Regions from separate parts of the Homo sapiens genome. Here regions 1, 2 and 3 are each reported to be linked to region 4. The links are microRNA targets in miRTarBase. Many come from high-throughput screens and were not tested one by one. Region 4 holds a microRNA gene; each other region holds the end of a gene's coding sequence.
The links. The annotated mature microRNA hsa-miR-548v reads AGCUACAGUUACUUUUGCACCA and lies in region 4 at 1,972-1,993, opposite strand. An mRNA with a match to its seed (bases 2 to 7 or 8) in the 3' UTR can be bound and repressed. Matches are read on the target gene's strand: a 7mer-m8 pairs with bases 2 to 8, a 7mer-A1 pairs with bases 2 to 7 and ends in A, and an 8mer does both.

Region 1: the mRNA of CDC27 is a reported target of hsa-miR-548v. Seed matches in the 3' UTR shown: 7mer-A1 at 499-505.
Region 2: miRTarBase lists PEX5L as a target of hsa-miR-548v. Seed matches in the 3' UTR shown: 7mer-m8 at 2,426-2,432.
Region 3: miRTarBase lists STUM as a target of hsa-miR-548v. The part of its 3' UTR that is shown has no 7-base or 8-base seed match.

Annotation. Positions count from the first base shown.
Region 1 is chr17:47,118,471-47,121,603 of GRCh38, forward strand. CDC27 (cell division cycle 27) reads right to left here. Exons shown (of 19, transcript NM_001256.6): 19 at 1-2,547. The coding sequence ends at 2,465. Among named protein-coding and RNA genes, the nearest start is that of CDC27, 69 kb to the right of the region's middle. RefSeq lists an enhancer at 1,330-1,940.
Region 2 is chr3:179,798,870-179,802,025 of GRCh38, forward strand. PEX5L (peroxisomal biogenesis factor 5 like) reads right to left here. Exons shown (of 15, transcript NM_016559.3): 15 at 1-3,156. The coding sequence ends at 2,959. Among named protein-coding and RNA genes, the nearest start is that of PEX5L-AS2, 98 kb to the right of the region's middle.
Region 3 is chr1:226,601,486-226,604,641 of GRCh38, forward strand. It overlaps STUM (stum, mechanosensory transduction mediator homolog), which reads left to right. Exons shown (of 4, transcript NM_001003665.4): 4 at 521-3,156. The coding sequence ends at 555. Among named protein-coding and RNA genes, the nearest start is that of STUM, 54 kb to the left of the region's middle. RefSeq lists enhancers at 481-1,017, 1,018-1,553, 2,763-3,156.
Region 4 is chr8:17,679,617-17,682,772 of GRCh38, forward strand. MIR548V (microRNA 548v) reads right to left here and starts at 2,041; the gene lies at 1,962-2,041. All of the region lies in intron 7 of MTUS1 (microtubule associated scaffold protein 1), which reads right to left.

The sequences.
Region 1 (3,133 bases), not on the chromosome of region 4:
CAAGTGTGTGCGCGTATATATATATGTATATAGATGTATTAAGTTGGTGCAAAAGTAATTGCAGGTTTTGCCATAAAAGTCATGGCAAAAACCACAATTACTTATGCACCAACCTAATATATGTGTGAAACAGAGAAAAGGATGTCAAACTACTTAATTTAATTTCTGTAAAATAAACTTCTGAAATTTGAAGCAAACATTTTGCTTGATCAAAATGTGTTCTTCTTCGGGTTGTTTGATCCCCATTCCATGCAAAAAACAAAACCAAACAAAAAAAGAAACTGCAAAAGCCAGAAAGTGTTACTACGTGGGAAATAAGGCTTCAAATACCTAAATGACTTTGAAAGTAGGTATGAGGAAAAATAAAATAGGCCAAGCTTGGGCGGAAACTGTCCCCCAACCAGCCATTGCCATGGCATGTCTTACAAAACGATCCTTTTATCCTTGGTCTCAAAAAATCAGTACCAGAAAGACTCTCACCTCTGGCACATAAATTCCTGCTACAAAAAGATAATTATACTTCAGCAAGTTATGTTCTAAGCTTAGCTTTCTCCAGGCTTTATAACGCAGAACTCAGGTTGAAGCTTTCTATAAAACTCTAAATGACACTGTTATACAGCACCTTGTGCTTTGCCAATTAAAAAAATAAAAGAATCTAAAATTAAATATTACAGAACTAATGGATAATACAATAGCATACGTGTTAGAATCCAAGTGCTAGCCTCTGGGAATTTTTCATTATATTTATTTTCTCCCAACTGTTCCTTTTTTTTAAAAAAGTATTGTTTTAGACAGTACATATACATAAATTTAGGTAGGGAAATCTGTTAAATATCTCTCTGGCACCTGATACCTAAAGACCCTGACTTGAATTAATTTATAAATTGTACCTAATCCATGTTCAAATGAGATTAACAGTAAATTATAGAAAATTACTGAGTCTACAGACTAAAATTTTTTTCACATCTTTTGTAATCCACCTTATTTTCACAGCTTGACTAACAAATACAGGTAAGTTTGTCCTCCATCAAATAATCCAGAATAATAACTGTAGGCCTGTCATTCATAAGAAACTATAATTTGTTATATTCTGACACTGGCACTTAATAAAATGTTAACAACTAAAATTTCTCTAAAAATTTCAATACATTACAGTAAAGGAGATAAACAATTTAAGACTGTTTAAATCTGTTACTGTGGAATTCCAATAATTATCATTTTATATGCATAATTGAATTCTTAAAATTGTGGCCATTTTCCAAAGACACCAATCTATATTATGACAAACTCAGAAGAGAACCTATCTCCTTCATAAGAATGTTTTTTCCCCCAAGCTAAAAATTTCCAACATCCTAAACCCAATTACTCTTAGTAAATGTTTTGGTGACTCACACTACTGAAAAAATCTGAAGCAGAGAGTCAAAAAGAATGGAAAGGATCTCAACCAAAGGTAACCACACATTCTTACACTCTGCTTAAGCAAACACTTAGAAAAGTCAAAGGGATGTTTTGAACAAATATAGATTCAAGGTTATGGTACAATTCTGATTATATTAAGGCTTTCACTATCATGATCTCTTAAAAGTCTCTCCACTTTAGTGTTCTCCTTCTGATTCATATGGTGAACTTAAGGGGTTATTAAGGGCCTTGTTTTGGCTTCTCAGTGGGGAACCACTCTATCATCTCTGAATGTTAAAGGTGATCCCACAGAGCTCAAAGAGAAGAGGCAATATGGTAAGAAACAATTTTAAAGTTTGCAATACCAAGACAACAATGATCAACACTTTGAAGCAAGATGAATAAATTAAAATTCTTGGTTAGACATTAAAGCATTCTTGCCAAGAATAAGAGTACACTGTATGGAGGGATATTTGATTCCTACATACGAGTCCCAATATGCCCATTACATTTGTTTATGGGAGATACTGCAAGTTTAAGGTAATTTACATTCCTTGGCAATCAAGTCACTGTTATAGGCAACGTCTTTTATTGTTCCATCTGGCACTTGCAAACACCATTCTTGAAGAACCTAGAAATGAAGGTCAGTTACTCTGTTTATCAGGAACAGAACCAAATAAAAACAAATTTTTGAAAAAGCAACCAAGAAACTCTGGTTCATCACTATTTTCCATATCTAATGGTTCCTTCAAGATAAAGCATAACTCTTCCTTTCATGATACTTTCCAACAAAGGGAGATTAAAGAAAAACAGAAAAGAAAGTTCCCCACCCTACCCCCCATAAATTGTCATTCATACTGGTAAAAGAGCCAGTCTTGTTAGCAGCTAAATATTGCACTGCCTTTCATTCTGTATACAGTCAGGGTCCAATGAAAGTGGCACACTCATGGTATAAGTGACGGACGATGACACCGCCAGCTCAAGAGTAAAGACTCAGTATACAGAGGGACAAGAAACACGTCAGCACTAGTCACACATCCAGTTGTAAAAGTCTGATTTCCAGAAGTTAAAATTCATCACTTTCAGCTGCATGAAGTTGTGTGTCATCCGCATCTGTCATGCTGCTCTCCTGGGATTCATCTGTTCCCACTTTAAAAATAAAACAGAAGTCCACAGTAAGTTTTCTGACAAATATGTCCTGTTGGTTCATGAAAACAAGTAAGAAAAATTGTATTATATTCAGAGAGATAAAACCCTAAATAAAGGCCCTTAAAAATCCTCATATCCTTTAATAAAATGCAACTCAAGTTTCCTAACTTTATAATAGGTCTGATATTAGCTTACTGCATTTTACCTTTAAGTTTTAACTACCAAAACTGCCTCTTCCTAATGAGTTCCTTATTCCTGCCCTAGGAATTACAACTAGCTAGTTCTCTGAGACATTAAAAAAAAAAAATTGACATTTCCCCCAACCTCCAATCACTGACTCCACTTTAAGAATACTCCCTGCTAGTCCACAGAAACACAGACTATAACCTTCAGTTTCAAAAGGTTTATGGGGTCAGTCTATCAGTCAATCAATCAATCAATCATCTATCTTGCTCTGTCACCTAGGCTGGAGTGCAGTGGCACAATCATAGCTCACTGCAGCCTCAAACTCCTGGGCTCAAGTGGTATGATTCTCCTGCCTCAGCCTCCCAAGTAGCTGGGACTATAGACACGTACCACCACAGCC
Region 2 (3,156 bases), not on the chromosome of region 4:
CTAAAGTCTTGCTACTGATTTCTTGGTGGTGCTCTATTCCTATAAACTGTCACTTTTTTGTTTTTTTTGAGACGGAGTCTCGCTCTGTCACCCAGACTGGAGTGCAGCGGTGCAATCTCGGCTCACTGCAACCTCCGCCTCCCTGGTTCAAGTGATTCTCCTGCCTCAGCCTCCTGAGTAGCTGGTATTACAGGTGCATACCACTACACCCGGCTAATTTTTGTATTCTTAATAAAGACGGGGTTTCACCATGTTGGTCAGGCTGGTCTCGAACTCCTGACCTCGTGGTCTGCCCGCCTCTGCCTCCCAAAGTGCTAGGATTACAGGCGTGAGCCACCGCACCTGGCCTGTCACTCATGTTTTAATAATGGTTTTAACTTAATTTTATAAAAAATATTATTGAAAAATGCAACTCTTTTCCTCTTGGGCCGTAATTCTGGACTTCTTGACAGCCTATAAAAATCTTAGATCTGACAGATACTACATACACTAGAGAAAGTACTACTAAATGCTCTGCAAATTGCCAAATAATGGTAAGAATGGAAGATTGTTTAGTCTTCCCTAAAACAGCTCCTTGGAGTTTGTGTTCCAATAGCAAAATAAAACTTGGGCCACAAAATTTGCCACCATTTAGCAACAAATTAATTATTTGACATTTATACTAGTTTCAGGCTTTAAATCCAGGCTGCAGATTCAGCTGCTGCTCAAAGTATAGAATGGCATCACAGAACACTTACAAAGTTTGCTTTGAATCCTTTGTTCAGAGGCTATTCAATCCTTTGTCCATGAACTATTCATGCCGACTTTCTGGTCAAGGTACAGAGATGGCAGGAGGAAGGAGCAGGGAAGGAAAGGATGCTTAATCAGGCATATTCAAGCAGGCCCTGCCATGGCTTGGAGGCTGGCCCCAAGAGTCCTTACCAGACTGGGTTTCTCGAATTCTACAATTCTTACAATACCATTCTTGAAAGCATTGTTGAGCTTTACTTTGCTGCTGAGACTGTAGAGAAGCACGGTCTGAGACTGGGTGGTCGCTGCTACCCATGATGAGTGCCTGAATGCCTCTGCCTTCTGCTGACCAGCTGGAGCTACCACCTGGCCCAAGTCAACTTTGACAATGACTATCAAAACCTGGCACTCCTCACAGTGGCCTCAGCTTTTTGTCTTTATAAACTAGAATAGGTTATAACATATGTAAGCCTCAAGGACTTGTGGTTTCTGTTAACTTGAGGCCCTCTCACAACCCAAGGACTTCAGATGTAACAGAGGAGAGGATTTTATTCCTGTACCTCGCATTCAATTGATAAGCACGTGTGCACATTTACTCCTCAGTAGAAGCTTATTCCCCAGCCAATTAGACTGTTTTGATCCCAATTCTGTGGAGTCTTTTTTGTTGTTGTTGTTTTATTTTTTGTGGGTAGCTATAATCATGAGCGGGATGAGCTATTATTATCAAAGAACATAAATAAAAAGTTGTTAGGATTAGCTACTGTGGGGAAGGTTCTAGACGAAGGAAGGAGACCAGGTAAAGAAGAATGGGATAACTTCTATACCTGACATTGGGAAAATTATATTCTGATTAGCATTTTGCAAAAAATGTTCCTAATTCTTTAAAAAATGTATCTTTCAAAATAATCACCAAGCCCCAAACACATACAAAACACTGTGGAGAACTAAGTGGAATTCAACCAATTAAAACACCACTGCTAATAGAAAATTCCCAATACTTGCTAAATGTTCAAAGAGCCAAAGAGGCATGCATCTTTCATATGAAATCACTGGCATTCAGTGAGATTTGGTTTGAAAGTGTTGCTCTTCTATCACTTAGAATGCAAGGGGATGAACAGTGCAGATTATTATGAAACTAAGAAAACATAATTTTTAGGAAAAAATGTTATTTATCACTCTTAAGAAATATTATTTAAAATATTTATGGTTTAAAAGGAATATTGGTGTGCAGGGCAAAGCCAGTAAAGTATGACACTTAAGCAAGTTAATTTGAACTCAATAGAAATCACGATACCATCAAACTTTCTTCCTGCAGAGAATGCATGAAGAGACAGTACCTTGTGTCTTACTTATGTTCATACAGACCCAGAAAGCACGTGAATGAAAAGATCTGTTTGCCATATTTACGCCTTATGTCATCGTATCTGCTTTAAGAAAAACACTTCTTCAAAATCCTACACTATGAAAAACTGTCTTCAGGAATTGTTTATTTGGTCCGTTGATCTAGTGAGGCTGAGTTCTTAAATCTTTCACCCCCAAGTTAAAAATTGGAGCAACAAAACAAAACTCCAGCAAGGCATAAATAAGATATTAAAGTGCATATATACAATACCAGAAAAGTTTAGATTGGGAACAGCAAAAATTTCTAGTGCAAAAACTGCTTTTGCCAGCAAAGCTCCCTCTCTGGAATCAAAGGGCTACAGTAAAAGTTAAAATTGGAACAGGTTTAAGCAATGTCTGTCTTTAGTCACAAGTTAATATATGTGCATGCACCAATGGCCCAAACTATGTTCAGTCTTGCAAAAGAAGACAGTTCAGAAACAGTCAGAATTTCCCAATCTGAGGCAGTGCTTTTTCCATGTTTCCCATGAACAAGTTCCTCAGATGTGTCATCAGCTGCAAGGGGAGACAAAAAACCCAAAGAACATGTGTTGCAATATGCTTGCAACTTGTGGAAAGAGTATTCAACACACAGTTACTTTATCTTGGTTTGTCTTGAGTCTCTTAATTCTTCTTTTGAGCCTGACTTTGACTCTATATACAACATTTTGTGCTTTTGGATCTGAACAGAGACTGGGCATTGTCCACAGGAATTAATTTCCTTGGGCTATATGACCATGGCCTTTTGAATATTTGATTTATCCTTTTGAAATTCATAATAAAATAGTTTTTGATTTTTCAGTACAATCACACAGATCAGGGATTATTAGTACTGGTATTATTCTTTCTTCAAGGATCCAAGTTGAAAGCTCTTAAGAGGACATCCAGGTCACCAAGATTAGCCGCCTGGAAGAGTTCTGGTTGGTCCATCAGAGAGAGCGCAATTCTGAGGGCAGCCCAGATATTCCCAGAGATTGCAGGATGAGGAACTTGCTGCTGATTCCTGCTCTTTCTTTGCAAACTGAGGGCAGTGAGAAAATTGCTGAC
Region 3 (3,156 bases), not on the chromosome of region 4:
CTCATGATCAACAATGTTTTAAAGGTTTAGCCTTCAGGCGCCCTTTCCTGCCGTAACCGTCCAGCAGGTTGGACGCACACAGGGATGGCTGCTCCCCTCTGTATGCCATCTTCCTCCTTTCTTCCTCCTTCTATCCACCCATACCAGATGCCCAACCTTCGGGGAAGCCTGCCTGGCACCTGCTCCCAAGGCTCTGCACTGGGAAAGCACACCAGACCAGTCTGTAAGCGGCTTCCAGATGTGGGTTCAGGAGCATGTCGATAGCCTTTTAGCTCCCACCCCAAATGCCCGCCCGTCATACATTCCCAGTAGACCCAGTACTCCACATTTCCTGATTCATTCTTTTGTTTCCCATTAGAAAGTCAAAGCCCTTGGGAAAAGTTGTGCTCTGATGGTAGCAGTCATTTACACCTTAGTATAAACAATGCCTCCTGTGTGCATTCTGGGCTAGGGGCACCTCCTGGAGAAATCCTGAAGTAAGCAGGTGTCTAACCATCTCTCCTTTGCTTCTTCCTCACAGGCTACAAGGAGCAGGGCATCCCACAGCAGCTGTGAGCCCACGGGAGCCGCTGGGGAGATCCAGGGGGGCCCTGTGAGGGCTGCACCAGGCAGCTTTGGGCACAAGGACCTTTACATGTTCTTTTCTGCCATTTTCTGGACTGGGGGTGGAAAGGGGGTATTTTTAAAAATATTATTTATTTTGAAAACGCATCTGCTTTTCTCAGCAGGTTGTGAGGGCTGCCAGCCCCTCCTGCTCTGGAAAGCACTGTGGGCGCAGGCACCAGAGCATCAGAGAGTGGGGTGGAGATGAGAACGCCCACAGAGAGGCTGGGATGCTCCGGCAGGCTCCAACTGGCCTTGCTGTACCCACTGCCCACCGCAAAGGCACGCCACGTCTGCTGGGCCGGGCCACACCGGGCCCTGTCTGGGTGAGCAGGGGCTCACCAAGGGGACAGGACTGTGGTAGACCCGTCCTGTGGGACCCCACCTGCCTCAAAATCTGGTGCCCCGAGTGTTTACTGTGTGGTCTCCTGGGGGCAGCACCAGGGTGTGGGTGAGGATGGCCAGGCTCCACCCTAGCGTGGAAAGGCCCACTGTGCCCACAGCTGGCCTGAGGCCTCGGGGAGAAGACCAGTCCCACAGGCGTCTCCTGGGCCTGCCTCCCTGACCGCACCCCCCGCCTCCTCGCAGCTGAAATCTGAGGGCTGGGTGTGTCGTGACCTGTGTTTTCCTGGGAAGGAGAGGAGTAGCTCCTTCCCTGGGGTGAAACTGCCAGATGTTTATACACAAAGTTATTAGACTGAAGCAGGAGTGGGCAGACTAGCAGGCTTTCACCCAATACTTAACAGCATTTCTGGCCCACATTCCTTTTTCTGAAGTCATTGGGGCCAGATGTGTCTCCGAATTGAGAAATTTTAGATTTGAGAAAGACAATGCGATCCATTTATCGTACACTTTCTAACTTCCCGGCAGAGTGTGGAACATCTCGCCTACCATCAGGCACGTGAATATTTCTGCAGAGAAACATGTGACTAGTCCCATTAACTGGGAGCTATACAAACTGTAAATAGCCTCACCTCAGTTCAGTCTAATTTTGCCACTAAGTAACTTAGGGAAAAACTTACCATTTGAGAGCTTTTAGGGTTTCAGAATTGCAAGAACAATTGTATGGGGTTGTGGACCTTGATCTGAAAATCCTGCTTGCAAACAGATGTGTTAGAGGGTGAAATTGTCGGCATTACACAAGGACTCCTTCAGTTGCCAAAAGACCATGGGCCTCTTTAAGGAGCCCCTCTGTAAGTGATTGGGACAGGGCTAGATCCCTAATGGGGGCTAGGGGTGGGGAGAATCTAGCAGAAGTTGTCCAGGATACTGTGGATCAAGTATCAATCTGAAATTAAGAGAAATTAGATACTAAGAGGATGGACATTTACATGTCTGTTTCCTTTCCTTTCATTTTCATTCTAACATAGGAAATGCTAACAGATGGGGCTGGCCCAAAGTCAAGCTTCTGACTCCACTTGACACAGTGCCATTGGGCATGTCCCTCTCTGAAGGGCTTGTTTGTCTATCAGAGACTGTCAGAACTCCATGAGGGCAGGAGAAGGGATTTTGCAGGATGAAAGTGCTTGGGAAGTAGTGGCCACCGTTCTGGGGGTTTCAGCCCACCTACCCCATCCACCGGGCTTTCTAATCACAGTCCTGCCTGAGAAGCGGGCCCTGCTGCCCACCCCTTATCATGGATCCCTTAGCTACTGTCCGTCTTCCATTGCTGCCTGGGGCTGGGCTGCCGTTTTTGAACACCTGGCAGTGTCTTTGTCGCGTCCTGTCCTCTCTTCTTACAGACCCCAACCCAGGCCTTTGCCTTCTTCTCTCCTGTTTGGAAGCCTCTGTATCTTCAAGGTGTGGGAACAGATTTGGTTTTCTCTAAAAAGCTAGAACCTTCTGCTGTGTGCAGCAGGCATCCTCCAGGCTGGTGCTGGCTGCTCTCGAGGAAGCTGCGTCAGAGTGGAGCTGCCCCTCTACTCAGATAAAATAGCTTCAGCTGCAGGAAGCCGCCCCCTCCCATGCCCACCAGCCCACAGCCCTTCACCCCACACAGCCCCCAGAGTTTGCCCGACACCCCCTGAGTGATGACAGGTCTCAGGAGGGGGCCGCCCCCACAAATGGGAGGCGGAAGCTTATTTTCCCCGCTTGGGCTGGGGGCGGCTGCTGAGGGGGTGAAGAAGAGATAGCAATTTATGTCGCATGTTTAGTGACACAATCCAGATGCAGGTGGGACTTTCTTGAGTGGCAGGTGTCACCCTGGGTCCCGTGTGGGATGGTTTAATACAGGGGTTTGTGTGTTTGTGTGTGTGGAGGGCCACTGCGCCCCCAGATCCTCCTCTCCCCCGAGGGCTGCGTCTCTAAACCTGGGAAAACATCAGCCTCAGGAGGAGGCCCCTTTCCGGGTAACTGATGTGTGGGAGAAGCCAAGAGGCCCCTGCCTGTCTCCTGAATGAGGCTGTGAGGGTTGCCATGTGGGCGGGACCGGTTCAAAATAGCGCCCCCGCCCCTCTAAATTAGACCGTGGTCTCAGCATGATCATCTTCAGTAGATAAGGGACAGTGGCTGATTTACTCCAAATAGTTCCAGCTGGCCACTCAGACCAGGGCC
Region 4 (3,156 bases):
TCAGTCTCTTGAGTAGCTGGGACTACAGGCACATGCCACCATGCCTGGCTAATTTTTGTATTTTTTGGTAGAGACAGGGTTTCGCCATGTTGGCCAGACTGGTCTCAAACTCTGGACCTCAAGCGATCCACCCGCCTCAGCCTCCCAAAGTGCTGGGATTACAGGTGTGAGCCACCATGCCTAGCCTCCAACTGTTTTATAATAGTGCTCAGTATACATTACACAATCAGTAAATATTTGCTGATTATAAAATAAAGAGAGCAAAGAACATTTACATAAGACTTTATGCTCATCCTACATCTGGAATTCCATCCTCTCCGTTCATATGTTCACTCACATATATACTGTGTTGACTATTAAAGCTGCTGGGGTGGTTTCATAAGAAAGAACTAGATGCAGATCCTGCCTTCAGTAAATTTCCTGTCTTAAAAAGCAAAAACAAGCATTAAACCGGTATCTCTAATATAACACAGACAATGAAAGAGAAGCATATATGCTCCTGGAATCCAGACGGGAACAGAACGTAGATCTAGAAGGCCAGGAAATCATTCCTGAGTGGGTTCTGGACTGGGAGTGGTGGATCATGCCTGTAATCCCAGCACTTTGGAAGGCCGAGGCAGGTGGATCACTTGAGGTGAGGACTTTAAGACCAGCCTGGCCAACATGGTGAAACCTCATCTCTACTAAAAATACAAAAATTATCTGGGTATGGTGGTGGGCATCCGTAATCCCAGCTACTCAGGAGGCTGAGTCAGGAGAACTGGTTGAACCCAGGTGGCGGAGGTTGCAGTGAGCTGAGATTGCGCCACTGCACTCCAGACTGGGTGACAGAGCAAGGCCACTGTCGCAAAAAAAAAAAAAAAAAAAAAAAAAAAAAAAAGCGGGTTCTGGAGCTGTATTCAGTGCAGTCACAATTCCTTGGCTGTCAGGACCTAAATTTAAGTATAAGGTGAAATTCACACACAGTACAATTGTCTGGGAAATTCACTAGGAGCTTGCCATGTTTGTGGACAATGCATCTCTCTGTAGATCCAACCCAGTGAATTTTTTTCCTCTAGCGTTGGATCAACTCTCTCTATAACTGAGCACCTGATAAAGGCCTCGGCTTGTGTTTAGAGGCCAGGTTGCATGAGGGAAAAGTATCTTTAAACACTAAGATAGCAGAGAGTATAGAATGCTCACGCCACAAGAGGTGTTCGGGGACTGAGCAGACACATGAAGGAAGGGTGGACTCCTGACCTTCATCTCAAATTGACTCCCGGGCCTTCGTTCACTGGGGGGAATACAAGGTGGACTTGTGTTCTTCATTTAATTTGCTTTTTTTCTTTTTTTTTTAAGTTGGAATCTCGCTCTGTTGCCCAGGATGGAGTGTAGTGGTGCGATCTTGGCTCACTGCCACCTCCACCTCTCAAAGTAAAGTGATTCTTCTACCTTAGCCTCCCGAGTAGCTGGGACTACAGGCACATGCCACCACACATGGCTAATTTTTGTAGTTTTAGGGGAGATGGGGTTTTACCATATTGGTCAGGCTGGTCTCGAACTTCTGACCTCAGGTGATCCACCCGCCTTGGCCTCCCCAAGTGCTGGGATTACAGGTGTGAGCCACAGCGCCCGGCCTGCATTTTTCTTCCTTCAGTTGTTTGTGTACTGAATCTATGTAAATTAAATGCAAGTGGTGATGTGATGCTGCTGTAAAACCGACCTGAACATGTAGGTATTGTGGGCAAGGACAGCAACCCAGTAATGATACGTGAACAATGGATGACGTACAGGAAGTTTACAGGACATTTTTAGTTGATAGCTTCCTAGACCTAGGTTTACGTCCTGGTTCTCCTCTTGCTAGCTGTCTGATAGCAGGCAAATTACCTAACTCTATGCCTCAATTTTCATATTTGTAAATTCCAACTCGTGTCTTTGGTGAGGATTTAAATAAGGTAAGTAAGAATATCTGGCACTTAGTAAATATTAGGCTGGTGCAAAAGTAACTGTAGCTTTTGGCATGATGGCAAAACCGCAATTACTTTTGCTCAAACCTAGTATTCAATAAATCCCTCTTGCTTCTCCTCCATCTCTTTATGTACGGCTACAGCATCTGGGCATGATAATAACATTAAAAGGGGCAGTTGTTGCCAAATGATAAAGAGCCTTATAGTACCAGTTGAAAACCAGACTCCCCAAAACAAAATAACATGAGTTACGTAATTATAAATTTCCTAGTAGCCACGCTGAGAAAAGTTGAAAAAGATGAAGCTAATTTTAATAACGTATTTTATTTAACCCAAATATATATATAAAATAATATTTCAATATATTCAATATAAAAGTTGTTAATGAGATATTTTACATCCTTTGTTTTCATTCTAAGTTTTTGGAATCCAAGTGTATTGTACACTTACCACACATCTCAATTCAACGGATTTACATTTCGAATGCTCAGTCTCATATGGCTAGTGGCTACCACACTGGACACATCAGCTGTAGATAAGGGAGAACCACTGGAAGATTTAATCAGCAGCGTGGGATGCTTTGGTAAGAGGACGCTGTCAGCAGTGCTTGGGATGGATTATAGGTGAGAAACAGTACAAGCCTAATGATTGGTTAAAAAGGTGCTATCACAGGTTGGGCGCAGTGGCTCACGCCTGTAATTGCAGCACTTTGGGAGGCCGAGGTGAGCGGATCACCTGAGGTCAGGAGTTCAAGACCAGCCTGGCCCACATGGTGAAACCCTGTCTCTACTAGAAAATTACAAAAACTAGTCGGGCATGGTGGCGGGTGCCTGTAATCCCAGCTATTCGGGAGGCTGAGGAAGGAGAATCACTTGAACCCGGGAGGTGGAGGTTGCAGTGAGCCCAGATCACGCCATTGCATACCAGTCTGAGTGACAGAGCAAGACTCCATCCCAAAAAAAAAAAAAAAAAAAAAAGTTGCTATCATGATCTAGTGGAAGCTATCCAGGGTCTGAGCAAGGATGGCATGAATGGGGACAGCAAAGACATAGGAAGGGGAAAAGCACTGTGAAATGAGAGTTCACAGGACTTGACTGACGTCATGAGGAGGATGAAAGGAGAGAAAACAGTTGAGGATGGGGGCTATTAGGCTAGATATAATAAAATAAAATAATTGGTTTATTTCTAAACATAAAAACTAATTGTTCCC